Homo sapiens: one gene and its partners. The protein of the gene in region 4 interacts with the protein of the main gene of each other region in a biochemical or structural test. Each region holds a gene or a part of one and is shown on either strand. Other genes may lie near its edges. The genes, in order: RERE, CUX1, MED12, EHMT2, RPA1, FOXO1 and AURKA.

Region 1 (3,500 bases), on a different chromosome or scaffold from region 4:
CAAGATACGGACACACACAGAGGAGCCAAACCAAACCCCGAACAAAGGGAGGAAAATCCGAAGGAAACCGAGTGGTTGGGCTTCAAAGACACCATGAAGGTCAGGGCCTCCTAAACAAACTGTAGTTTATCTGGTGAGGGTTTCGGGTCGAGGGTTTTTTAGATGGAAGAATCTCAGCGCTTCGCCTTGGGATATGGGGAGAAAAGCAAAGCTAACAAGAATGCCTTCGGACGGCTTTCAAGCACAGACCTCAGAGGACTCGACTCTTCTTTGGAAAAATGGATGCCAAAGGAGGAGATAAAGAAGGTTTAACTGAATGGTAGATGTTGTGTTCTACCAAAAAGAAAGAAAAACCAGAAGCCGAGAAGGTGGGGGCCTGGATGCAGGAGTCTGGGAGCCCAGCAGGAAGAGGCCTCGCTCAGAGCCACGGGAACAAGCCTGCCATGAGGGCCTGTCCCCACCCCAGAAGGAAACGAATGCCTTCAAGCCAATGTGGCCTGAAGTCCCACGACAAAAGGTTCATGTCAGCTTTGCCTCCCTGTGAACAAACTAAAGTTAAGGCAGAAATGGAATGAGAGAAAAATGAAAGAAAAAAAACTAGAAACATTTTCAACAGACAAAACAAGCCTATCCCAACTGAAACCAAACACGGTTTTTAAGAGAAACTGGAAATGTCGCTATTTGACGCCAGAACCTGAATTTGAGCCAGTAGCTGCTGGTTTCTAGATCAAACTATCAGCATCTCTTCCTGCTCCCTCTGCGGCCTGGGTCCTGGATGGACTTTGTGTCCGCCGACCCAGTGTGGTCTCTGTCCTACAATTCTTGGGATGGGACCAGCACAATGGCAGAAGAGACCTCCAGTGTCTGAGAGAAAAGGATCGGAAGAGGCCACGTCCTGGCAGGAAGCAGGGCCGACAGAGGGCAGACACCCCAGAACACCCGCCCTCAGCCTGGGAGAAAGTGCGTTACGGCTGCAGCCTGGAAACGAGGGCAGGCTCTCTCCAGGACGGTTCCGCTCAGAAGGGCCTGGCCTCCTGAGAAGCAGCCCCCACACAGCATGCTTTCTGAATGCACTGTGGGTGGGACTCCAGTTCCCACTTCCAGGATGAAGAGTGGGACTCAAATGGTTTACCAGTGCAATGTGGGGTCACCATGCAGACCTGCCCCTAGGGTAAAATACAGGCTGCCCCCAACACCTGTCTTAACTCCAGGATCTCCCTTGCTCAAAAGTGGCCTCAATCTGTGGCAAGAAAGATGGGGCCGTCCTCACCACAAGATCCAAGTGACAATGCGCATGAGAAGGCAGCCTTCTAACACATCCCTTTGGCAGGCATATGTCCTGGGTCACTTGTGTGCTGAGTTATTTGTATGGAATCATTTTCTTAGATGATGAAATTTTCGGAGTATTAAAAAAGACATTCATCCAGAACAATCAAGTGTGTGTACACAGAAATCTAGAAGGAAATCTACAATGGACACAGGCCCATGCGCTTTCCATCCCGTGGAAACAGAACAGTGACACTGGAGAACAGAAAGTGAACATTCACCTCCTGCACTCCCTGTGCAAAATGGAAGAGGTCTGATGGAGCAGATGTCTGTGCTGCTGGCAGAGCACAGGCTAGGAGCAGACACAAGTGAAACGCCAGGCAGAAAACAGAGTCTGTAACATCGTCCCTGCAAACCCTGGATGCTCGCTGCTGTGACCAGGCCTCGGTCCAAGCCTCTGTCCATGTGGAACGCCCCTTTGCTCCCTTTAATTAAAGGGATAATTATATATAACTTTTTATTAAAAAATCAACTCTGTATTCTGTCAATAGTTGGTAGGAATTCACAATTAGTGACATGGCTGGAAAAAATAGATCACAATAGTAGTTTATGGAAGAAAAAAAGGCTGTTCTAAAATTATTTATTTACAGACGTAAAAAGCCATGCTGCAGAACTTTCTCCAATTATGAAGATTTCCTACAATGTATTAAAATAAAAGATTTTTTTTTTTAAAAATTATAGCTCTTGGATTCCAAATTCCTATGCCCCCGATCTGCAAGCCTCGTGGGCTCTGGAGCACTCGTGGCGGAGTGTGTCAGTGTGTCTGCACGCACAGTGAAGGGTGTGAACTGGATTCTAGCACCTACTGAGAAATCAAGGAAAAGAAAACTAAAGCCAAACCCCAAGATTGCAGGGAAGCTTTCTGGATGTTCAGTCCAGTCCAGGACTCACTAAGTTTCTGGGGGACTGTCATGCAGGGAGATCCAAACCAGTCTCAGGAAATCCTCTCGACAAACGAACACTACTATGTGGATACATTTTTAGTTGTGGGTTTTTAAATATATAAAGAAATCTTTAGAAGATATTCTTTTTGCTTTTGCAGCTCCTATTTTATGTAAAAAGTCCTGTTTCTCCCCCCAAGAACTGGGGTTTCCACAGCCAGCGTTAACAAATAAATAACTTATAACTGCTTGTCACCTTCTTTCTTCAGTCGACTGGAAAGACAAAACAGGAAAGCGTATTTAGTCTCAGGCCTAGGCAGGCAGTCACGCAGGCTGGAGGCAACCCCAAAGACAACAGCCAGGCAATCCAACCCCAAGCCCGCAGCCTCCTGTGTAGCTGACCTACCCTCCCAACACCTCCCTTCCTCTGTTTCTCCCATCACCATGGTTCCACAATGTCCCCTCCAGGGCCCAGCAGGCAGAGGGGGAGGAGCCTGGCCCTGGGCACACGGGGAGGTTGGGAGCCTGGGCTCAGATAACCCCTCCACTCCCTCCCAGCACCCCACCTCACCTGTAATAATCTTCCTGACTTGGTAGGTGGCCACCATGCATGTGGGGGTGTCCATGCAGCCACTGCTGCTCCATGGCCAGTCTCTGCAGCTCGGCCGACTGGGCATGCATGGCCTGCAGCTGGTGGGCTGCTGACATGGGGGGTGGGATGGCCCCAGGCAGGTCACGGGGGTAGGGGGTGCCTGCCGAACACAAAACAACCTGCGCTACAGAAATAGCCAGAGGACTGGCCAAGACCAGGGCGGCACAGGCACAGCAAACGGCAAAGAGCACAGGAGAGGTGCCAGTTCGGACACAGGAGCCAGCCCCTCCCAGACTCTGCAGACAGCCAGAGGGCAGAGCCTCTGGGGAGGCAGGAGGTGCCCTTGGGTGCCTCTGCCTGGACCTGCCTGGCCCCTCCTCCAAGGCCTCAGCCCAAGTGCTTCTCCTTCAGAGACCTGCCGTGAGTCCCCTCTGCTACTTTCACCGGCTCTTAGCAAGGCTGATGCATTTATGACCCCTACCCCAGACAGCCCCCAGAGGGCAGGAGGCTTGTTCCCCCACGGACCCCCTGCATGCAGGGGGAGCGAACCCACCTGCTCAATGCATGAATGAATGAATGAGTAATGAATGAAGACAGCAGACCAGACCCCAACCCAACCCTCACACGGCCTCCCCGCCCCTCCTGGAGGGGAAGTCTTACCGAAAACTGGGTGGCGAAGCATCTCGTGCTCGTGTGGGGGC
Region 2 (3,500 bases), on a different chromosome or scaffold from region 4:
GGACACCATCGAGCTCACCCGGCAGGTTAAGGAAAAGCTGGCCAAGAACGGCATCTGCCAGAGAATCTTCGGGGAGAAGGTAAGGGATCTGCTCTGGGGGCTTTGGTTCTCCCATCTCTTCTCCTTGCTGAGGACCAAGTATCTATCCCGCAGCCTGTGACCCTCACCCATTTCAATTCACCCAAGAGCAGAGCGTAAGGCATCCTCTGCTCCCAGACTTCCAAGGTGCGGCTGGTGAACATTGCAGCCCCGATCCCATTTGCCGAGCCCCGACTGCAGCCAGGTTCTAGGCTCAGCCTTTCACCTGCATGCTGCCCTTTCGACCCCTCACTTGGCGCTGGGAAGTGGATGGTAAAATCCCCAATTGACAGGGAAGGACACCAAGGCTTGGGGACGTTAACTACTTGCCCCAAGCTGACCGGCAGCCGAGTCCACATCCAGCTTTTGCTGCCAAGGGGAGCTGAGAGGCACCCCTGCAGGCTTCCTTGGCCAAAAAAAATCCCATCTGATCACACAGAGGGACCACCAGTACGCAGAGAGCCAAAAGGGACTTACTAGAAAAAGCTGCAGAGAGCATTATTGTTCCTTTCTGTGTAACTCTTGGATATTGTTCAGTCAGAGAGGTCAAGCAACCTGCCCGGGGACACACAGCTTGGGGATGGCCCAAGCAGGGTGGCCCGTGTTTCCCTATCATCCTTCCCTGGCTCAGGAAAGTGTAATCGTGCATGGACGAGCTTCTAGGCCTTTCTGTTCTTGGCACTTTCCTGGTCACTGAGATTCAGGAGAATGAGGGTTAACCGTGCCTGCCAAATCTAAAATAAACATCATGTCCTAGTATCATTTTATTTATTTATTTTTTGAGATGGCGTCTCACTCTGTCGCCCATGCTAGAGTGCAGTGACGCTATCTCGGCTCACTGCAACCTCTGCCTCCTGGGTTCAAGCGATTCTCCTGCTTCAGCCTCCTGAGTAGCTGGGATTACGAGTGCCCACCACCACACCCAGCTAATTTTTCTATTTTTAGTCGAGTCAGGGTTTCACCATGTTGGCCAGGCTGGTCTCCTGACCTCAAGTGATCTGCCTGCCTTGGCCTCCCAACCCCCTACCATTTTAGATTAAATAACGGAGTGCTGAATAGAAGGAGAAGCACCCCTCTCCCCTAAAAGGCACCTTCCTGAGGGAGCACGTGGCTGGATCAGCAGGGGACAAATCCCACCCCCTCCCCTGCCAAGCCAGGGTCCCTGCATGGCGCCGTCCCCGCACTCCCCACCCCGCCTTCCACTCAGTGTTTGCCGTATGCTGTGCTGTGAATCCCGGTGGTGTCCGATGGCGAACTTTGCCCTGATTTTGCAAAAGGTGAAGGGGGGCGACTAGAAATGAGGATGAGTATTTCAAGTCCCTTGAGATTTCTAGTTCAGTGTTGTAAAAATACCATTTGAGAACATTGAAATAGACATTCGTGCTCATGCCTTAAATTTAGCAGAGACTTAATAACATTGAACTTGTTTGGCCCGTGAGTGCAGTTTTATTCTGGAACTTGAGAACTTTTCAAAAGAGTGATCGGATGCAGCCCCTAAATATCCCAGGGCGGCATCTGTGTCCTGTGGGGGGTGTTTGTGCCTATACATATGTATGGCCATATGGGAGCGTCAGAAAACTCGGGTGTGTACACGCAACTCGGCAATCATCTGCGGCGGAATGTCACTCCCAGGCCGGCTCCCCAGGTCCCACCAGCTCACCTCTGGGCCCCCACCTTTGATCAGGATGTGGTCAGAACAAGCAGACCTTTCTAAATGCTGGCCTGGCTCAGCGTTTGCAGAGGACACCAGCTTCGCCAGTCCCACCGGCACCCACTGCCCCACCTCTGGAGGGATCTTGTCCCTGGAACCTTAGCCTTTCCCGGTGCCACCAAGTGAAGAGCAAGGTGCTTGTACACACCTCCTCCGCGGGGTGTCAGGGTGACAGCCCTGCCATCTTGGCAGGATCAAGACCCTGGGATGAGACCCTCTTCCCTCCCTGGGAGCTGAGAGCTGTGGCTGTAACCATGGCTCACCCGAAAGTCCCCCTGTGCCGGGGTCTCAGCCACCGTTGATCTTTAAATGCATATTCCCTGCCCACAAGCTGTCACCGCCACCAGGCCGTGGTTCTGTGCTCAGAAGTCAGCCCTAGACGCGCCCTCTGCGTGGTGGGTGTGCATTGCAGCAGCATCTGTGGTGTCATGCTAATAGCCAGGCACTGATGGCCTGTGTGTTCGGTGCCACTCCAGGTGCTGGGCCTGTCCCAGGGCAGCGTCAGCGACATGCTGTCCCGACCGAAGCCATGGAGCAAGCTGACGCAGAAAGGCCGAGAACCCTTCATCCGGATGCAGCTCTGGCTGAACGGCGAGCTAGGCCAGGGTGTTCTACCCGTCCAGGGCCAGCAGCAAGGGCCAGGTAATGGGGGTCCTGCCACAGGAGAGGGGCTGCCCCCCCATAGCAAGGACCTGGTCACAGCAGCCCCACCTGGGCTATGCAGAGAGGGAGGAGGGAACTCCGCCCCAGGAGGTGGCCAACCACACTCCCCACCGTGGGCTGGTGCTGGGGGACAGAACCGTCCCCTTCCTCCACAACCTGTTGCCGTGGGACTGACTTCAGTGTTTAGGAGAGATCATGCCTGTCTAATTTTATAAGCAGCAGAAAATGAGTTACCAATTTAAAAAATGCTGTTTATACATAAATACAGGTAAAAGTCAAGTAGCTGAATCAGGGAGTCAGGAAAGAAAGTCAGCCAAAGGTACAAAAGTGGAAGATGTCACAGGCGAAACCTTTCACCTGCTCCCGGCCCGGGGGCCTGGCCTTGCAACAGCAGCGCCTCCCCGGCCCGTGGGTCCCCATGCCCGCCCCTCCCCAGGAGGAATGGGAAGCCTCCCCGGGCCTTGCCACATTCAGTTAGGAAGCTTTAAGCCCTGGGCCGCGTTCCTTCCTTTAATTATAACCTTTTTCTACTTTAGTCCTCCACTCCGTGACATCGCTCCAGGACCCGCTGCAGCAGGGCTGTGTGAGCTCAGGTAAGCAGCCAGTTTCTGTTGCTTTTGCATGAAATGTCTCACTGCCTTTTCTGTTGTCCCGTGCTGTGGTCTGTCCCGGCGAGACTCCGAGGGACCGCACATTCTGGATTTGGGGAGCTGAAATATGGCATCCTATCTGCAAACGGGGTCCCTCTCTGTGTCAGTTTCTAATGGAGAGCGAGCTGACAGTGCATGGAGGGACTCTGCCAAGATTTGCACGCCCACTGTCATCCTTTGTCGGCCCAGAGCCTTGTGTTCAGGGCTGGGGTCTAAGTCGGAGACAGATTCCCCACTCAGGGGGCTTACCGTCTGATAGGAAGGGATAAAGCACGGGCACACGTCCCTCTCCTGGTGGGGTCATGTCGGGGGACTTCTTATCTAACCGGAAGACATCCAGGCAGCCTCTGAGCAAGAAAATGGGGAGCTTTGAGCTTGAGCAGTGGGAAAGGTAGGGT
Region 3 (3,500 bases), on a different chromosome or scaffold from region 4:
CCCGCCGGCTTGCCTACTTCTGTACACGGAGACTGGCCCTGCAGCTGGATGGTGTGAGCAGTCACTCATCTCATGTTATATCTGCTCAGTCAACAAGCACGCTACCCACCACCCCTGCTCCTCAGCCCCCAACTAGCAGCACACCCTCGACTCCCTTTAGTGACCTGCTTATGTGCCCTCAGCACCGGCCCCTGGTTTTTGGCCTCAGCTGTATCCTACAGGTAGGTACTAGGCGGGCCCAAGGAAGCATTGAGAGATAGCCTGAGAAGAATCAGGTGCCCATCCCAGAGAATAGGGGTAATTCCAAATTGGATGTGGGAGTAGGTGCTGAGTACTTGCTTGGAGGTTGTTGTTTCTTGGTAATGGGGTGTTAGTCCCCTTTGGGGGTTTTCACCAGCCTCTCTCTCCCTTCCAAGGCTAAATAGTGGGCCCAAAGCCTTTTAGGAAAGTGAGTGAAGGGAGGGGATCGGGGTGGAGTGATGCCTGTCTTGGGGACCCAGTCAGAATAACTTTGGATCTGGAATCTACGGGTTGGGTCTTAGAATGGGATTCCAGAGGGGTAACCATGGTGAATGAGTTGGACTTAGCTGTTTCTATCTGGTAGACCATCCTCCTGTGCTGTCCTAGTGCCTTGGTTTGGCACTACTCACTGACTGATAGCAGAATTAAGACCGGCTCACCACTTGACCACTTGCCTATTGCCCCGTCCAACCTGCCCATGCCAGAGGGTAACAGTGCCTTCACTCAGCAGGTATGTCTGACCACTAGCCTGGTACTCTCAGATTGGGCTATGAGGCTAAATTACTCTTTCAGAAGTAGTGATTTGGAGTCTAGTACTATTCTTCTAGCCTGGGGCTCTGGCCTTTTATATGCCTTGGTACATCCTTGTAGCCTTCCTTTTTAACATTGCAGGTCCGTGCAAAGTTGCGGGAGATCGAGCAGCAGATCAAGGAGCGGGGACAGGCAGTTGAAGTTCGCTGGTCTTTCGATAAATGCCAGGAAGCTACTGCAGGTATGTGTCAGAGAACAGATAATAGGAAATATGTTTGAGGAAAGGATGGGGATAGTAAGGACATGTAGATCTAAGAGCCAGAATGCACCGGGCCTCTGGTTCAGTCCCCTTTACCACTTTTCCTCCTTAGGCTTCACCATTGGACGGGTACTTCATACTTTGGAAGTGCTGGACAGCCATAGTTTTGAACGCTCTGACTTCAGCAACTCTCTTGACTCCCTTTGTAACCGAATCTTTGGATTGGGACCTAGCAAGGATGGGCATGAGGTAAGCGAAAAGGGGAATAGAAGGAGCAAAAAACATTGCAAGAGCAATAATATGTCTGAGAGGGAAGTCATGGTGAGGCATTGAAAGCAGAGCATATCTGCAGAAATGATCTTACTGGGCCCAGGATGTTTTATGATAGAGCCCAGTCTTTAGGAAATTGGAACTCATTTCTTTGTCCCCACCCCTACCTTACTCCTCCTTCTCTTCCTTTGTTCTCCAGATCTCCTCAGATGATGATGCTGTGGTGTCATTGCTATGTGAATGGGCTGTCAGCTGCAAGCGTTCTGGTCGGCATCGTGCTATGGTGGTAGCCAAGCTCCTGGAGAAGAGACAGGCGGAGATTGAGGCTGAGGTTAGAGGGCAGAGATAAGAGAACAAGATTGGCCAATGGGAAGGAATTTACTGCGGTTGGAGACCGAGAGATGGAGGTGGTGGAGGGACCAGAGTTGAAGGTGTGAGAACAGAGTAAAGAAGCAAAAGAGAACCTAAAGGCAAAGTTACGGACGTGAGGCGAAAGTAGAGAAGAGTGGATTGTAGTAAGAGTTAGAGATAACATCAAGGCTTCAGTTGGGAGGTGGTAAAGAACATGGAGGTCAGCAGGGGAATGAAAGTGAAAAGCATGGGGTAGAGGTCAAGCAGGTGGTAGTTTAAGGCCTACACATTGAGGAGTGAAGAAGCAGGTAAAAGTCAGTTCTACAATTTGTTCTGTCATCTTGCAGCGTTGTGGAGAATCAGAAGCCGCAGATGAGAAGGGTTCCATCGCCTCTGGCTCCCTTTCTGCTCCCAGTGCTCCCATTTTCCAGGATGTCCTCCTGCAGTTTCTGGATACACAGGCTCCCATGCTGAGTACGGACCCCTACCACTCTCTAGTTACCTCTGCCTAGACTCAGTTACCCACCACTGTCATCAGAAAGCATAATTAACAGCCCTCTGGTCTATATTTCTCTCTTGGGCTCTATGCAGAATGACTTTTAGATGTAGTTCTAGTGATCCTCTTTAACTGGTCATCTTACAGTTAAACAGAGTAGAGAAATACAGAGAAGGATAAAAACAAGAGCTTGTGATTGAAGCATTTTCACTGCATAAATCGCAACAAAGATGTTACATTCCTTTCTGAGATGATGTGTGGGACAGCATGTGGGGTAACCAACCACACTTTGTCCCTCAACAATTTCTGGGATTTCTATTTGATCACTCTTATTATTGCCTTAGGTGTGTCCCTCTCTCTTTTGGCCCACCTTTTTGTGTTCTCCTAACTTATGTTTCCTCATTCCCTTCCTCCAGCGGACCCTCGAAGTGAGAGTGAGCGGGTGGAATTCTTTAACTTAGTACTGCTGTTCTGTGAACTGATTCGACATGATGTTTTCTCCCACAACATGTATACTTGCACTCTCATCTCCCGAGGGGACCTTGCCTTTGGAGCCCCTGGTCCCCGGCCTCCCTCTCCCTTTGATGATCCTGCCGATGACCCAGAGCACAAGGAGGCTGAAGGCAGCAGCAGCAGCAAGCTGGAAGTGAGTGGGCTTTTCCTTGCACTAGATCGTTTCTTCTGACATTTCCATCTTCATGGCTCCCAGGGGCCTCTAAGAGCCTCTTTTGCCTGGGGGAGGGGGGTAGTATTTTTCTTAGCACTTGGTGATTGACCAAGCACTCTCACATCAATTGTTTCATTGGTTCCTCCCATCAGCCTTGTGAGGTACTCTTATCCCCATTTTCAAACTGAAGAAAACAGAGGCCTATACTGGTTAAGTGATTGGATGAGGCTTGACTCCAGATCCTGTGCTTTCCCCAATCTGGTCTTCTCTCTCCACTTCCCCAATGAAGTTTTACAGATGGTGGGAGCCACTCCCTAGGGCTAAAGCAACTTCGCTTATGTTCTATGCCCTCAGGATCCAGGGCTCTCAGAATCTATGGACATTGACCCTAGTTCCAGTGTTCTCTTTGAGGACATGGAGAAGCCTGATTTCTCAGTAAGTTCAATCCTGAGCGTGGCAGAATCTGGATCCTTGGATCTTCCCATTATGCCTGCTTTTGGCATGTTTTTTTGCCCCCTCATCCACTTTCCTTCTTCTCATGTTCTGCTTTCTCACCTTTCTCTCAGTTGTTCTCCCCTACTATGCCCTGTGAGGGGAAGGGCAGTCCATCCCCTGAGAAGCCAGATGTCGAGAAGGAGGTGAAGCCCCCACCCAAGGAGAAGATTGAAGGGACCCTTGGGGTTCTT
Region 4 (3,500 bases):
CCTCAGATTCCAGCATCAGCCTCGACACCACTCCTCTGGCCTCAGCCCCAGTTGCTGTGCCTGAGCAACTCCCCACTCACCTCTCTGACTCCTGGATGACCAGGGCCTTTTCCAGGGCCTCCCGGCCTGGCCCCAGTGGCAGCCCCACGGCTGAAAGGCAGCCCCCATTGGGCAGGGTCAGGGAGGGCCCTGAGCTGTCAATGGTGTCAGCCAGGGGATCGCAGGGCGGGCGCCGGGGTTCCCCATGCCCTCGCATCCGGGCACTGTGGAAGAAGGAGCTCATGTCCAGGAGCAATAGGGGTGGGGGAGGGAACAGACAGTACAGAAGGGGGAGGCCAGTACCTGGGCTGAGAAGTGTCTGCTCTCCCGGGGACATCCTGGGACAGGGGTGGGGGTGCAGGAGCTGCAGTGCCGGCCGGTGGGGTCACCCCGTCACCCCGGGGGATGGTCACCTCTTGAGCTTCAGAAGCATCCTCCCCACAGTGGGGACAGAAGACCATCCCATTCAGCTGAGACACACAGGCCTTGTGGAAGCGGTGGGCCACACGGAAGTCAGGGTGGCACTCCAGGAAGGTGCCCTGGGAGCAGGGAAACGACATGGTCAGGTTACTGGGGCCCCCTCTGCCACAGGGCATGCTACCTGTCTGCCCCACTGGTCACTCACCGCCGTGCAGAAGTAGCCGCAGCCCGGGCAGCAGTGGTGTTTGACCATGCGGGCGCGGTGGGTCTCACAGAGCACCATCAGGGCCACACGGCTGGATGGCCTCATGGTCTCCCGCTTGAGGATGGCGGCATTGCAGCCTGACAGCTGTGCGCAGTGAGGATGGGTGAGAAGAGAGCGTGAGGCTGGGGCCGGGGACTGGACGCCCTGGCACCTCTCCCACCAGCCCACGGCCCCACCTCTCCGTCCACACTCTCAGTGGCCATGCACTTGTGCCCCGCCCTCTCGCTGATGCGGTCAATCTTGGGTGCCTCCATGCGGCAGCTGCACAGGGGCAACTCCTCAAACCCTCGCTCTGTCTCCAGCGAAGATGTGTCATTGGACACCCCTTGGATGGAGGAAAAGAGGAGCTGAGGGAGGCTCTGCACCTCACCTACTGGGACCCCTGGCGGGTCCTCTCACTCCCTCCCTACCCCACCCCGCCATGCCCCAGAACCCCTAAAGCCTGGCCATGGACACCCCGGCTCTGGCGTGGTTCCCCTCCTTCCCTTTCCCTCCTGCCCTGAGGTCGCCCCCTAGTGGCTCCCTGTCCCGGCAATTGGCAATTACCAGCGTGGTTGGGGGAGAGGGTCCCCTCGCTGGGCAGCTCCAGGGACCCCAGAGGGACCTCCATGTACTCACTGGGGCCTGAGGAGCCCACACCATTCACTCCTGACACAGAGACAGAGAGAGTGAGAGTGCGAGCTCACAGGTGCCTGGACGCGTGGGTACATGCAGGTGGACATGCGAGAGCGTGTGTGTGCGTGCACACACTCTGGGGGGCCGGGCGGGGGCTGGAGGGCACCCAAAAGCAGCAGAGCCTCCTCACCTCGTGGCTCCTTGGCCCGCGGAGGCTCCCGCTTGCGCCGTTTCCGAGACGGCTTCACCCATGGGCTGTCTTTTCGCCATTTCTTCTTGGCCTTGCGCCGGCCACTGGAACCACTCTGGGAAGGGGGAGGAGGAGGAGTTAGGAACCCTCACCCCCAGGGGCCCCCCCAACACCTTCAGGACCAGACCTCCAGCCCCATAGTCTCCCACTCCTCTGGAGATATCAGCCTCCGTCTCTTACCCTATCTGACTGATTCCCTGACTCCTCATCTTCCTCTTCTTCTTCCTCTTCCTCCTCCTCTTCCTCTTCTTCTTCTTCCTCCTCTTCCTCCTCCTCCTCTTCACTTAGTTGTTCAGTTAGAGCTTCAACTTCAGACTGGGAGAGAGGCAGAACAGACATATCCAACCCCCAGGACTCAGACAATGAGGTGAGTAAAGAAAACCACCACCACCATTGCCCCCCGCCACTACCCACGGATGGCTGCTGGGGATAAGTGTGGGTAGCAGAGGAGACAAAGGGCCACATAAAGAGAGGGTGCATGGAATATTACACAGCAGTGAAAAAGTTACAGACAGCAATGTGCACAGATCTTGGTAATGTGATATTAAGTTAAAAAACAAAAAGCAAGTACCAGAAGATAAACATACTTTGATACCCCTTTTATGATGTTCATAAACAGGCAAGACCACCAATGGTTGCTAAAAACACTAGACACAAAGCTCATGAGAAACTTTATATGAAAGGTTCAGGCTGACATCACCTGAACCCACTGGTCAATCTTATCACTAACAAGAAAAATGACCAGATTAGATGTTCCATGCATCCTGATGTGATGTGGCCAGAAGCACTTGCACCCACTGTCAAGTCTTCTTGGCACCTGAAGCTGATTCCGCCTCTAGATCTATCAGTTTACAAGAAATATGGGCAGAGAGGATGTGTCAATCTCCACCCAATCAGCCAACTCCTAAATGTGAAAAATTCTGTAGGACAACTGAGCTGGTTTCTTTGACAAATAAATGGCAAAAAAAAAAAATCTTTCTTATTTATTTATTGAGTTTTGCTCTTGTTGCCCAGGCTGCATTGCAATGGTGTGATCTCAGCTCACTGCAACCTCCACCTCCTGGATTCAAGCAATTCTCTTGCCTCAGCCTCCTGAGTAGCTGGGATTATAGGCACCCGCCACCACACCCAGCTAATTTTCGTATTTTTATTAGAGATGTGTTTTCACCATGTTGGCTAGGCTGGTCTCAAACTCCTGACCTCAGGTGATCCACCTGCCTCCCAAAGTGCTGGGATTACAGGCGTGAGCCACCACGCCTGGGCCAAAAAATTTTTTTTTAGAAGATGAGGAAATCAGGCCAGGTGTGGTGGCTCACGCCTGTAATCCCAGCGCTTTGGGAGGCCGAGGTGGGCAGATCACGAGATCAGGAGTTTGAGACCAGCCTGGCCAACATAGTGAAACCCTGCCTCTACTAAAAATACAAAAAATTAGCTGGGCATGGTGGTGGGTGCCTGTAATCCCAGCTACTTGGGAGACTGAGGCAGGAGAATTGCTTGAACTCAGGAGGTGGAGCTTGCAGTGAGCCAAGATCACGCCACTGCACTCCAGCCTGGGTGACAGTGTGAGACTCCATCTCAAAAAACAAAAACAAACAAACAAACAAACACAAAGAAGATGGGGAAACCTAAATACTGAGAGAGACCTAAGACAAAAAAAAATTTTTTTTTTTTTGAGACGGAGTTTCGCTCTTGTTGCCGAGGCTGGAGTGCAATGGTACGATCTTGGCTCACTGCAACCTCCACCTCCCAGGTTCAAGCGATTCTCCTGCCTCAGCCTCCCGAGTAGCTGGAATTACAGGCACGTACCACTACGTCCAGCTAATTTTGTATTTTTTTCAGTAGAGACGGGGTTTCTCCATGTTGATCAGGCTGGTCTCGAACTCCCAACCTCACGTGATCTGCCCGCCTTGG
Region 5 (3,500 bases), on a different chromosome or scaffold from region 4:
TTCCCTGTTCTTTCCCAGCGCAGGGCAGCTGCTTAGGTTTGGATTAAGGAGGCGGAAGGGTCTTAGTGGTCACCCACTTAACATATCTTGACCAAAAACTGATTCCTGCCCTTTGCACCCGACGAAACTCATTCTTACAGACTTCATTCTAGACTTGCTAGTCCTTCAGACGCATTGAGATCTGGGAGTTGTCTGGGGATTTGGAGGCGATCTATTTGTGATAGGTCCCTTACATCCTGTCTTTCTTCATGTGACTAGTGCCTTGCCATCAGTTTTACCAGTTACAAAAGTTGATTTTCTTTTTCTCACCCATTATCTTGCCCGTTGAGGCAAGAGAAGTGTTTAAGAGGGCGGCCTTCAGAAACAGCAGTGTCTGGATTCGTCACCATTATTACTTTGACCTCGGGGCTGACATCAGCAAACATAGCAGTGAGCTGCTGTGTGCGCAGCCTTCATCCTAGATTGCTTTTGTAGCCTCCAGCCTCAGTCTCTATTTGATCTGCGTATCTCTTGCATATAAAAAGGAAAAGCTTTGCCTCTCATGTTATATGATTTCACTAGTGGCACCTCCAAAATTTAGAGTTATTGTAAAGCTTACTATAAAAAAGCTAAGTAGAATAGTAATAACTCCTTTTCGTTTGCGTTTGTTTTTAAAGGTTCTACTGTTTCTAAGGCTTATGGTGCTTCAAAGACATTTGGAAAAGCTGCAGGTCCCAGCCTGTCACACACTTCTGGGGGAACACAGTCCAAAGTGGTGCCCATTGCCAGCCTCACTCCTTACCAGTCCAAGTGAGTTGTTGCATAGAGTAAGTTCAGAGTGTACTTATGAAATCGGAGAAGCTATTATGGACTCTTGAGTTATTTATGCGTGAACTTCAGGGTCACCACCAAATACCACCAAATAGAATGGGTTTACTCTTTTTTTTTTTTTTTTTTGCTGAGGAGGAAAGGGGTACAAATTGTGGCAAACTTTTAACTCTTGTTGGAAAATATAGTAACAATAGCAATCTGCCATAGCCTGTGGGGTTTCATTCATTTTGAAAGAATTTGAAATTAAAAATACTTAATGCTTAATCAGTTGATAGTCTTATGAGTAAAAATAAATATTTCTGATAATTCAAAAGGCATTTAATCTTCTCCTATAAACAGGTGACTTCGTCTTTGGTTTAGTTGGCTAAAATAATCTGCACTATTTGTATTAAACACATGAACATACCCTGAACATAAATTTCTTTTATATGACTTTTTTCCACCAAAAATTAATTTGAAGCCGGGCGCGGTGGCTCATGCCCGTAATCCCCGCACTTTAGGAGGCTGAGGCGGGTGGATCACCTGAGGTCGGGAGTTTGAGACCAGCCTGGCCAACATGGTGAAACCGTGTCTCTACTAAAAATACAAAAATTAGCCAGGTGTTGTGGAGCACGCCTGTAATCCCCGCTACTCAGGAGGCTGAGGCAGAAGAATCGCTTGAACCCAGGAGGCGGAGGTTGCAGTGAGCCAAGATTGTGCCACTGCCTTCCAGCCTGAGTAACAGAGTGAGATTCCGTCTCTCAAGATAAATAAACAAAATAAAGTAATTTGAATAGTTAAAAATTAGAGTTCTTTTTTCAGAATCCTTCCAGATATGTTTATATTTATTCTTCAATACTCTGTAACGTAGGAAAGATATTTTTCCCTGTGAAATTATAAGTGGGGTACCTAATGTGCCCTGTGCCTCCTTTTTCCATGCTTCTCTCTAAGGTCATGCTGCTTCAGTGTGTTCTTCCTGATGGTCCACCAACATCGTGTATTCTATTCAGGGTGTGTTACGAATGAGACAGAAGTGTAACACCAGTTATATCAGTTCCCATAATTGAAAACTGTGGCAAAATATAATTGCTGGTGTTACTGTATTTTCCAGCTTAGAACCTTTCATTAAGGGGATATGGTTGCCTTGGTGATGCTTTTTGGAGAAGGGAGAGAGTTTATAAATTTACTTATTTGACAGGAGAATGAGTTAGTATTAAATCACTTTGCATGTTTTACTATTTGCTTATTCTGTAAACTGTCAAACCCATGTGTCATCTTGGGGTTTTAATTAGCTGGATTAAAATACAGGTTGGAAAACGGAATATGCGTAAGACGAGAAAGGCTGTAGGAAGATGATTTCTTACTTGATCTTTTCCAAGGAAGACCCCATACACTAATATGATCGATTTGGTTTGTAGGTGGACCATTTGTGCTCGTGTTACCAACAAAAGTCAGATCCGTACCTGGAGCAACTCCCGAGGGGAAGGGAAGCTTTTCTCCCTAGAACTGGTTGACGAAAGTGTGAGTGTTTGTCATGCTGGGGAGTGAGGGCAGTGGGCTCGCCGGGAAACAGAAGGCTCAGCTCTGCGGAGGGCAGTGGGCTCGCTGGGAAACAGAAGGCTCAGCTCTGCGGAGGGCAGTGGGCTCGCCGAGAAACAGAAGGCTCAGCTCTGCGGGCCTATGAGGTGAAGAATAATAGTAGGCCAGAGAGAAGCATGATTGTTATTGTGCTTTTCCCTCTGTCATAGTCTTTTGATGCTGTCTGGAGTAGAGGGTTAAGGTCATAAATAAAATCTTTGATCTTAAATGACAGCGTTTGTAGCAGTAGAAAGTAGTTTTCTAAATATATAAGTAGCCTCCTGGGCAGGAGAAGCTGGAAACAGTCTGATTTGCTGGCAGGTGTACTGGAAGCACTGGGAGGTGATGCCTGCTTGTGAGCGCCGTGGAGCTTTGGGACACAGCAGAAGGCACACAGTTGTGACCTCGATATGGGAGTGGTTTTGTGGGAAATGGGTTCTGACTGTGCAGATTCTCTATTTGCTTTATTTAAACTAAACAAAACCATGACGATGAGACAAAATTCCTATGCCATGGAAGTACGACAGTCTTGATAGCTGTTAATCAGTCCATTCGTTTTGCTAATAATTCCTGAAATTGCCGGGTGTGGTGGCTCACGCCTGTAATCCCAACACTTTGGGAGGCCAGGGTGCACAGATCACTTGAGGTCAGGAGTTCGAGACCAGCCTGGCCAACATAGTGAAACCCCGTTTATACTAAAAATACAAAAATTAGCTGGGTATGGTGGCAGGTGCCTGTAGTCCCAGCTACTTGGGAGGCTGAGGCAGGAGAATCAATCGCCTGAACCAAGGAGGTGGAGGTTGGAGCCAGCCAAGATTGCACCACTGCACTCCAGCCTGGGCGACAGAGTGAGACTCCATCTCAAAAATAATAATAATTCCTAAAATGTACTTCAGCATTCTTTTCAAAGTGCTGCAGATTTCCTGTTTGTTCAGACTCCCAAATAGGGAGAAAAAAATAGATGTTTTTTTTGGAAGTTGATATAACACCCAAAATGTTTGTGTGATGGCAGAATCAATATTAGAACCTAATTTTTTTTTAGAAATTATTGCTCTAATGTATGGTGGTTGGCTAAAATTTCTTGTCCACTTGTAAATTTTGGCTGACAGAAAAGCAAAAGTGAAAATCAGATC
Region 6 (3,500 bases), on a different chromosome or scaffold from region 4:
TGCTTGGTTATATGACCCCAGGGAGATCCTGGGGGGGCTGGGCAAGTCTCTGCAAGTTGTTGCTACAAAGGCAAAGGCAAATCTTGAACTGCAGGGAAGCAGACCAACTCCCACACAATTGAAAATTCTGCCTTCCCCAATCACTATGTGGTATTTACACTGCCTTTCCAAGAGGATCCCCAAAAAGCCCCAAAGCTACAGCACATATAGGCCAAAAAAATGGCTGGGTAAATTCCCATGATGCCAGGGAACTGGGTAGTTTCCAAGGGCAGAGTGTTCCAGAAAAATGCAAATCATTCAGGCTTCCCCAGAGAAATTCCAGCCAAATACAGCTGCTATCTTAGAAAGCCTAACACAAAACTGCAGTTTAGATGCTTGGATGAAGGGGCTAGAAGCACAAGGACAGGCAACATGTTTACAGTCTGCAAGGCATTCTAACTTGCCACTGAATATTCTTCCCCCTCATCCCATTTCGTATCGCCTCGGAGAAGATTCCTTGTGTGTGCGGAGCATGAAATCTATGTGTCTGCTGCTAATGTGATACCTTTTCAGCAATTTTGGGATCTTGAAGACCTTTAACTTTTTTCAAGTTTACATGAGAATTAAAATGCCTTATTTTCAATAGTCAAGTGTTTGTCACTTAAAAAAAACTAGTCCATGAGCAGTGGCTCGTGCCGATAATCCCAACTATTCGGGAGGCTGAGGTGGGAGGATCACTTGAGCCAGGGGCAGGCAGAGGTTGCAGTGAGCTGAGATCAAGCCACTACACTCCAGCCTGGGCAACAGAGTGAGACCCTGGCTCAGAAAAACAACAACAACAACAACAACAACAACAACAACAACAACAAAAATGAGAATCATTCAAAAAGAGGCCACTCTTCTCGCCATCCCCTCAACCAAGGACATGCCACAAAACCATGCGTAAAAAGTAAAGCTCTTGGGAGTCTGAAATGAAGTATTCCAATTTGGCATCTATTTTGGAATTTCTGAACAAAATGTTTTAGCTCTCAAATAGATTCAGGTAACTTTCAGCCCTTAATAAGATGCTACATTTAGCTGCATAACCCCCTCATCCATTTTAAATTATTTCTTCATTATCGCTTCCCCAAGTACATATACAGGATTATCAAGGCTTTCTTCTTTTTTTTTTTGGAGACAGGGTCTCCCTCTGTTGCCCAGGTTGGAGGTCAGTGACGTGATCTCGGCTCACTGCAACCTCCGCCTTCTAGGTTCAAGCGATTCTCCTGCCTCAGCCTCCCGAGTAGTTGGGATTATTGGCACGATAGCTGGGACTACAGGCACCTGCCACCACACCCGGCTAATTTTTTGTATTTTAGTAGAGATGAGGTTTCACCATGTTGCCCAGGGTGGTCTTGAACTCCTGAGCTCAGGCAATCCGCCCACCTTAGCCTCCCAAAGTGCTGGGATTACAGGTGTGCGCCACCACGCCCAGCCTATCAAGGCTTTCTTTAAGGTAATTTCAGTGACAATCCAGAAGTAGGAAAGATGTCTCAGATCCTCTAACCACTCGGTCTCACCAGGATTCTCTAAGTCAAATGTGACCATGCAACAAAAAAGCAGCCATCTTTCTAACGGGATCTCTGTGGCTGGTTCAATTACTCACCTATAGATTATACCCAAATTACAGAATATTTATTTCAAAACATAAGGAAATCCACTGTCAGTTCATAGGCCAAATAAGAAACATCACTCCCAATTAAAGATTTATCTTAAAAATAAAAAGCTTTGGGGCCAGGCACGGTGGCTTACGCATGTAATCTCTGCACTTTAGGAGATCAAGGCAGGCAGATCACGAGGTCAGGAGTTCGAGGCCAGCCAAGCCAATATGTGAAACCCCCTCTCTACTAAAAATACAAAAATTAGCCAAGCATGGTGGCACGTGCCAGTAGTCCCAGCTACTCGGGAGGCTGAGGCAGAAGAATTGCTTGAACCTGGGAGGCGGAGGTTGCAGCAAGCCGAGATTGCGCCACTGCACTCCAGCCTGGGCAACAGAGTGAGACTCTGACTCAAAAAAAAAAAAAAAAAAAAAAAAAAGATATTTATCTTTAAATCAAAGAGGATACCTCTAATAAAACAATCTAAAAATTTATTTAACAAGAGTTAAGTGGTATAGTCAAAGTCATTCTTTTAACCTAAAGTGTTCCTAATAATATCAAAAGAGTCAACTCAAAACTGCCATTTATTAAAAAAAATCAGAGTTCAAACTACCACTTCCCAAGCTTTAGAAGGCTTTCTATGTGAAAAAACAGGTCATGGAAATGAAGTTTCATTATTTATAAATACTGCACTAGATTTAGAAGATCCCGGGTTTTCCAAAAGTCTTAGGTTCCACTTTGTGTGTGACCTTATAGCAATTCTAGCCAATATTACAACAAGTGTAAGACATTTAACATACCATCCCCACAAACACAAAATGCATATCCTTCAAATATAACCAGCACTTAACTATCTAAAGAATGACATTAAAAGTTTTTGAATTCATTAACAGTTTTCCAACTAGTTTGTCCTATGCAAATGACTCAAACTTTCAGGCAGGCCCCAGGAAGCAGCACACAAGAAACTATTTAATTAAAGATTCAGCCTAATTCCCAGTAGTAAATCACAGGAAATATTTTGTGCCAAAGCAACCTCTCCTCGGTCCTAAAACAGTTAAGTTTTGGTTGCTTTGCATTTAAAAACTGGATTTAAGTTAAAATTCATAGTAAAATTTCTCTTTTATGACTCTTAGAACAGGAGTCTTTCAGATCTGAGAGTGAAACTTGGTTTTAACAAGTAACTCATTTTTATGAAACTAACCAAAAGACTAGTTATGAGTTAGAACAGCTCAGGTTGTTTCTTTTCTTCTTAAAATACCCTTTTACTCAAACTGAAAATGTACTTGCTGCAATCAGACTTAAACCAACTGACATTACACCTGAAACACTTACTCATTTGAGAAAGGCAGCCTACTCCAAAGCAAAGCCCCATTAGGCTCCCACTGGGAGCTGCCCAAGGGCCTCCAATTCCAGACAGATAACTTAACAGGTCTCCTAGCTCTGGCAAATAAATTTAAAAAAAAACTAAATTATTCTTGCATTTTTAAAAAAATCAGAACAAGAACCTGATAAAAATGGTTGTAAAGATGATTTAACATCAGAATCTATTTTTTAAAAACCTAAATCTTAAAAAGTGTAAGCATATTCCTAGTTTAAGACTAACACTCTGACAATGCCATTTGAGACGCAAAACTAAAAATATCCCAAAACACTTCCTTTATCTTTAAAGAAAGGCACTCCAGCAAGTTGAAGTAGGTTGTATCCATTTCCAAGGACTAAAGAATGGTGTAAGTACACACTGTACTTTGAATGCAAAAAAAGGGGGGAGGATTTTTTTTTTAAATGGCTAATACTCTGTAACAGCTGAAGTGGAATTGATAGATGAGCAAGTAAGTCAAGTACTTAAATTCAAATGTTAAGTAAAACAAGATTTGGCAGACAATT
Region 7 (3,500 bases), on a different chromosome or scaffold from region 4:
ACCCAGACACTGTGACAGATAAAAGCAGTGATCAGTAATGGCAGTAGATGGGTGCTGAGCAGACTGGGCAGGTGCAGACTGTGGCCAGCGGGAAGCAGGCAATGGGAAGCACAGCCCATGTGAGATGCCTGCCCCTCCCAGCCCCAGCCAGGTGTTGCCAGGCAGAGACACACCAGGCCTGATGTGGCCAGACTTGAAGTATTAGCATCTGATTCAAATTTGAAAAACACTGAAAGAAAAAAAGGAAAAACAAAAACCCACCAGCCGTAGTCAACCTGCAGGTAGCTGCTCGCAATTCCTGCATACCTCAGAATAAGGGGTGCCATTCCCCTTCACTGTCCACCAGAAAGACTTGCCCATATAAACTATTCTATTAACAAAACATTAAATCCTCAAGTGATTTTTCCAGGATCAGAGCACTTAAGTGCTCTTTGAAAGATGACAAATTTAATCATTTTTTGTGGTACTATGAAAAGCAGGCCCTCTAAAAAATAAATTTATACTTAAAAAAAAAAAAAGGAATACAATTTTATTTTAACATGCAGAGCATGGGAGAATCACAGGAGAATGCTTATAACCCAGTGCAGTACAGAAGCTTATCTAATCTTTTTCATAGGGGAGGGGGAGGTGAGGAACGGGGCCATGCATTTGAAGGCAGTGCCTCGTAAGAGGGAGTGAAGGGACCTGGGCAGTGGGAGGCTGACATTACAGGAGGGGGAGGGGTGCAGCATTGGTGAACATTCTTTTGAACATGAACCTGAAAACTCACCGAAGGTGGGACTGTATTTCTACTTCTCTTCTGAGCTGATGCTCCACTCCGGCTTTCTCCAGCTGAGCTTTAAATAACACTTTAAGAGCCAGAATAAACTTGCTTTGCTTTTCTCTTGCCAAATAAACATTACCAAACTTTCCTTTACCCAGAGGGCGACCAATTTCAAAGTCTTCCAAAGCCCACTGCCTCCTAGGAGGAATTTGAACACTTTAGAATGTGAAGAAAACAAAGCTTTTCTAACAAATTTTCAATGAGTAGCAGACACATTCTACAAATAATTTCGTATTCCAACTTCACTCAATATGCATCCTCAGCAAGAACCAAGGCAATAACCACTATCAAAGAGCTGCCACGACATGAAACCCTGACGTCCCTAGCTGCCGTCAGGTGTGAGAGTCAGTGACAAGGAGCAGTCTCGGGTTTTAGACCTGAAGCACTCTATGGGAAATGTCCCAAGCCCGTACTATGCTCAGAGGAACAGGGCCATGACAACGCTGAAGACCACAAAAAGGATAAGTGACCAGAGAGGGAGGAATGCTTCCAGACCATCTGGGGGCATGTTTCAAACTAACCCCAGCTGCTCCCTCCAGTCCCAGAGGTGCTAATTCTCTCTGGGTGGAGAACCACTCTGGTGGTGGAGACAGAGCCACTGTTACTAATGGAAGCGGGATGGAGCCCACAGGCTAGCTGGGGCATGAGAACCAGTGGATTTAGACTCTTAGCCTCTGTTAGACCGCTAAAAGCAAAAGAGTCTGTGGGTTCATTCCTCGCTCCTCCCGGTACATTCTAGAGTCCAGATAGTTCAGAGACTGAGAGGAGGCTTTTAGAAAAGCCCTGGGGAAGACATTACAGCCAACCTTTACAATAAAGAACTAAAACTATAATACTGTCAAAACCCTCAGTCATATATGAGTATATAGTTCTGCAACATATTCTATTTTTTAAAAACTTGCACTTTTGTACAATAAAAAAGTACAGACGCATAAACCATATGTAGTGGTTATTTCTAAGGACAGAGAGGAACTTCCACACATTTCTATAAAAGATTCATACAAGCTTTTTCTAAATTTGAAAGCCATTTTTTAAAGCACTTGAGTTCCTAGTAAAATACCTCATTACACAAAATTCCATTTTTTTTAAGATTGGAAATCTGGAAACATTTATATCCTCTAAATGCAAATAAAGGCCTCATTTTTTTCCCCAGAGTTCCCACAACGAAATTTGCAACGAAATAATATATTCTAGTAGAACAGTACAGAACTTTGTAAATAAGAAAGCTTACTTTTTTGATTCTTCATTTTTCTGTTTTGATGCCAGTTCCTCCTCAGGATTATTTTCTATATGGAATAAGTTAAAAACCTGTTTTTAGAATAACTATATAGGATAAGCTAAGCTGTGAATAGAGGTGAATCAAAGAATTGGTCACCAAAATATTAATGGTATGTCAAGAATGATAAATCTGTTTTTTTTTTTTAAAGTTTTCCTTATAGAAAAAAAGGACTACTACACCCTGACTTCCATCATGTGAAGCCTTTATAGAATTTCTAAAGATGAGCAGACGTATATATAGACAGGCCCTTCTCTGATAAATTAAAGGCAGACTATGCAGGCTCTTCTGAAGCCTCAGTTTCCAAAGAAGAGCTTTTGTGGCAGAAGTACCAATCTTCCCATGCATGACGAGCTGCCAACTCGTCACCTTTTTCCCCTTACTAGGTGGGCCAGCCAACAGTCCATACCCTACATACGAATTATCACCAACATGTAGCAAAACATAAGCCAGCCACCCTCCATTTATATTAGCTGCCAAGGGGAAATATAAAAATAAAAGCCACCAATTCAGCAAAATGCACAATGAACAGTTGTGCAGCAGAGGACTGGGGTAACTATTTCATCAGCCACAAGGACATATGAAACATTTCCACTGGTCTGTCTCCAACATAGCAAACTCGAACAGCACACAATGCTCTGCTCAGATATCTGGATGCTGGTCCAAACTCTTCCTCCAGATGCCCCTGTCACATGTGCACCCCTCAACCCCCAGGACACTCACTCAATTAATATCAATCTAATCACCATCCCTAACTCCTCTTTATTCATCTTTCAGGTACAATTTATTGCCCAGTTCTAATGAGTCTGCATCGTAAATGAGCTCTCAAATTTGTGTGCACCTCTCCATCCTGGCTTGTCTTTGGATAAGTTAACTGCTTCTGAGTCTTAGCTTCCTCCTCTGTAAAACTGAGTTAATAACTGGCTACCTTCATGAAGTGGTTACGAAGATTGAAAGAGATGACGTGGATGAAGCACGCACTTATCTCAGAGCCTGCAGGGAATGAGCACTCAACAGTTGGTAAATAATTGCATCCACTCTGCTCCACACAGAGCAGGTTATTGCCATCTCTGACCTCAACCTCCTTCCTGTCTGGTACTCCTAAATCCAGCGTTCTACTCCAATTTATTCAGTACTTCCACAGTAAATTTTTTTTTTTTTTTTGAGATAGAATTTTGCTCTTGTTGCCCAGGCTAGAATGCAATGGCACAATCTCGGCTCACCACAACCTCCACCTCCTGGGTTCAAGCCATTCTCCTGCCTCAGCCTCCTGAGTAGCTGGGATTACAGGCGTGCACCACCACGCCTGGCTAATTTTGTATTTTTAGTAGAGACAGGGTTTCTCCATGTTGGTCAGACTGGTCTCCAACTCCTGACCTCAGGTGATCCACCTGCCTCGGT

What was found.
Region 1: the proteins of EHMT2 (region 4) and RERE form a complex in vitro, tested with the Homo sapiens proteins (one study listed by BioGRID).
Region 2: the proteins of EHMT2 (region 4) and CUX1 form a complex in vitro, tested with the Homo sapiens proteins (one study listed by BioGRID).
Region 3: the proteins of EHMT2 (region 4) and MED12 form a complex in vitro, tested with the Homo sapiens proteins (one study listed by BioGRID).
Region 5: the proteins of EHMT2 (region 4) and RPA1 form a complex in vitro, tested with the Homo sapiens proteins (one study listed by BioGRID).
Region 6: of the proteins of EHMT2 (region 4) and FOXO1, one has a biochemical effect on the other in vitro, tested with the Homo sapiens proteins (one study listed by BioGRID).
Region 7: of the proteins of EHMT2 (region 4) and AURKA, one has a biochemical effect on the other in vitro, tested with the Homo sapiens proteins (one study listed by BioGRID).

What each region holds. Positions count from the first base shown.
Region 1 is NC_000001.11:8,352,641-8,356,140, forward strand, and holds part of RERE (arginine-glutamic acid dipeptide repeats protein), read right to left. Parts: coding exon 3,460-3,500; intron 2,960-3,459; coding exon 2,779-2,959; intron 2,481-2,778; coding exon 2,447-2,480; 3' UTR 1-2,446. UniProt on the Homo sapiens protein: Plays a role as a transcriptional repressor during development. May play a role in the control of cell survival. Overexpression of RERE recruits BAX to the nucleus particularly to POD and triggers caspase-3 activation, leading to cell death.
Region 2 is NC_000007.14:102,202,126-102,205,625, forward strand, and holds part of CUX1 (Homeobox protein cut-like 1), read left to right. Parts: coding exon 1-79; intron 80-2,265; coding exon 2,266-2,431; intron 2,432-2,988; coding exon 2,989-3,045; intron 3,046-3,500. UniProt on the Homo sapiens protein: May be involved in intra-Golgi retrograde transport.
Region 3 is NC_000023.11:71,121,596-71,125,095, forward strand, and holds part of MED12 (mediator of RNA polymerase II transcription subunit 12), read left to right. Parts: coding exon 1-221; intron 222-604; coding exon 605-751; intron 752-912; coding exon 913-1,012; intron 1,013-1,142; coding exon 1,143-1,279; intron 1,280-1,499; coding exon 1,500-1,631; intron 1,632-1,998; coding exon 1,999-2,125; intron 2,126-2,563; coding exon 2,564-2,793; intron 2,794-3,168; coding exon 3,169-3,249; intron 3,250-3,380; coding exon 3,381-3,500. UniProt on the Homo sapiens protein: Component of the Mediator complex, a coactivator involved in the regulated transcription of nearly all RNA polymerase II-dependent genes.
Region 4 is NC_000006.12:31,887,699-31,891,198, forward strand, and holds part of EHMT2 (histone-lysine N-methyltransferase EHMT2), read right to left. Parts: intron 1,905-3,500; coding exon 1,770-1,904; intron 1,645-1,769; coding exon 1,530-1,644; intron 1,373-1,529; coding exon 1,271-1,372; intron 1,050-1,270; coding exon 901-1,049; intron 809-900; coding exon 665-808; intron 579-664; coding exon 343-578; intron 264-342; coding exon 81-263; intron 1-80. UniProt on the Homo sapiens protein: Histone methyltransferase that specifically mono- and dimethylates 'Lys-9' of histone H3 (H3K9me1 and H3K9me2, respectively) in euchromatin.
Region 5 is NC_000017.11:1,875,005-1,878,504, forward strand, and holds part of RPA1 (replication protein A 70 kDa DNA-binding subunit), read left to right. Parts: intron 1-656; coding exon 657-789; intron 790-2,207; coding exon 2,208-2,310; intron 2,311-3,500. UniProt on the Homo sapiens protein: As part of the heterotrimeric replication protein A complex (RPA/RP-A), binds and stabilizes single-stranded DNA intermediates that form during DNA replication or upon DNA stress.
Region 6 is NC_000013.11:40,660,142-40,663,641, forward strand, and holds part of FOXO1 (forkhead box protein O1), read right to left. Parts: intron 1-3,500. UniProt on the Homo sapiens protein: Transcription factor that is the main target of insulin signaling and regulates metabolic homeostasis in response to oxidative stress.
Region 7 is NC_000020.11:56,382,216-56,385,715, forward strand, and holds part of AURKA (aurora kinase A), read right to left. Parts: intron 2,110-3,500; coding exon 2,055-2,109; intron 962-2,054; coding exon 770-961; intron 1-769. UniProt on the Homo sapiens protein: Mitotic serine/threonine kinase that contributes to the regulation of cell cycle progression.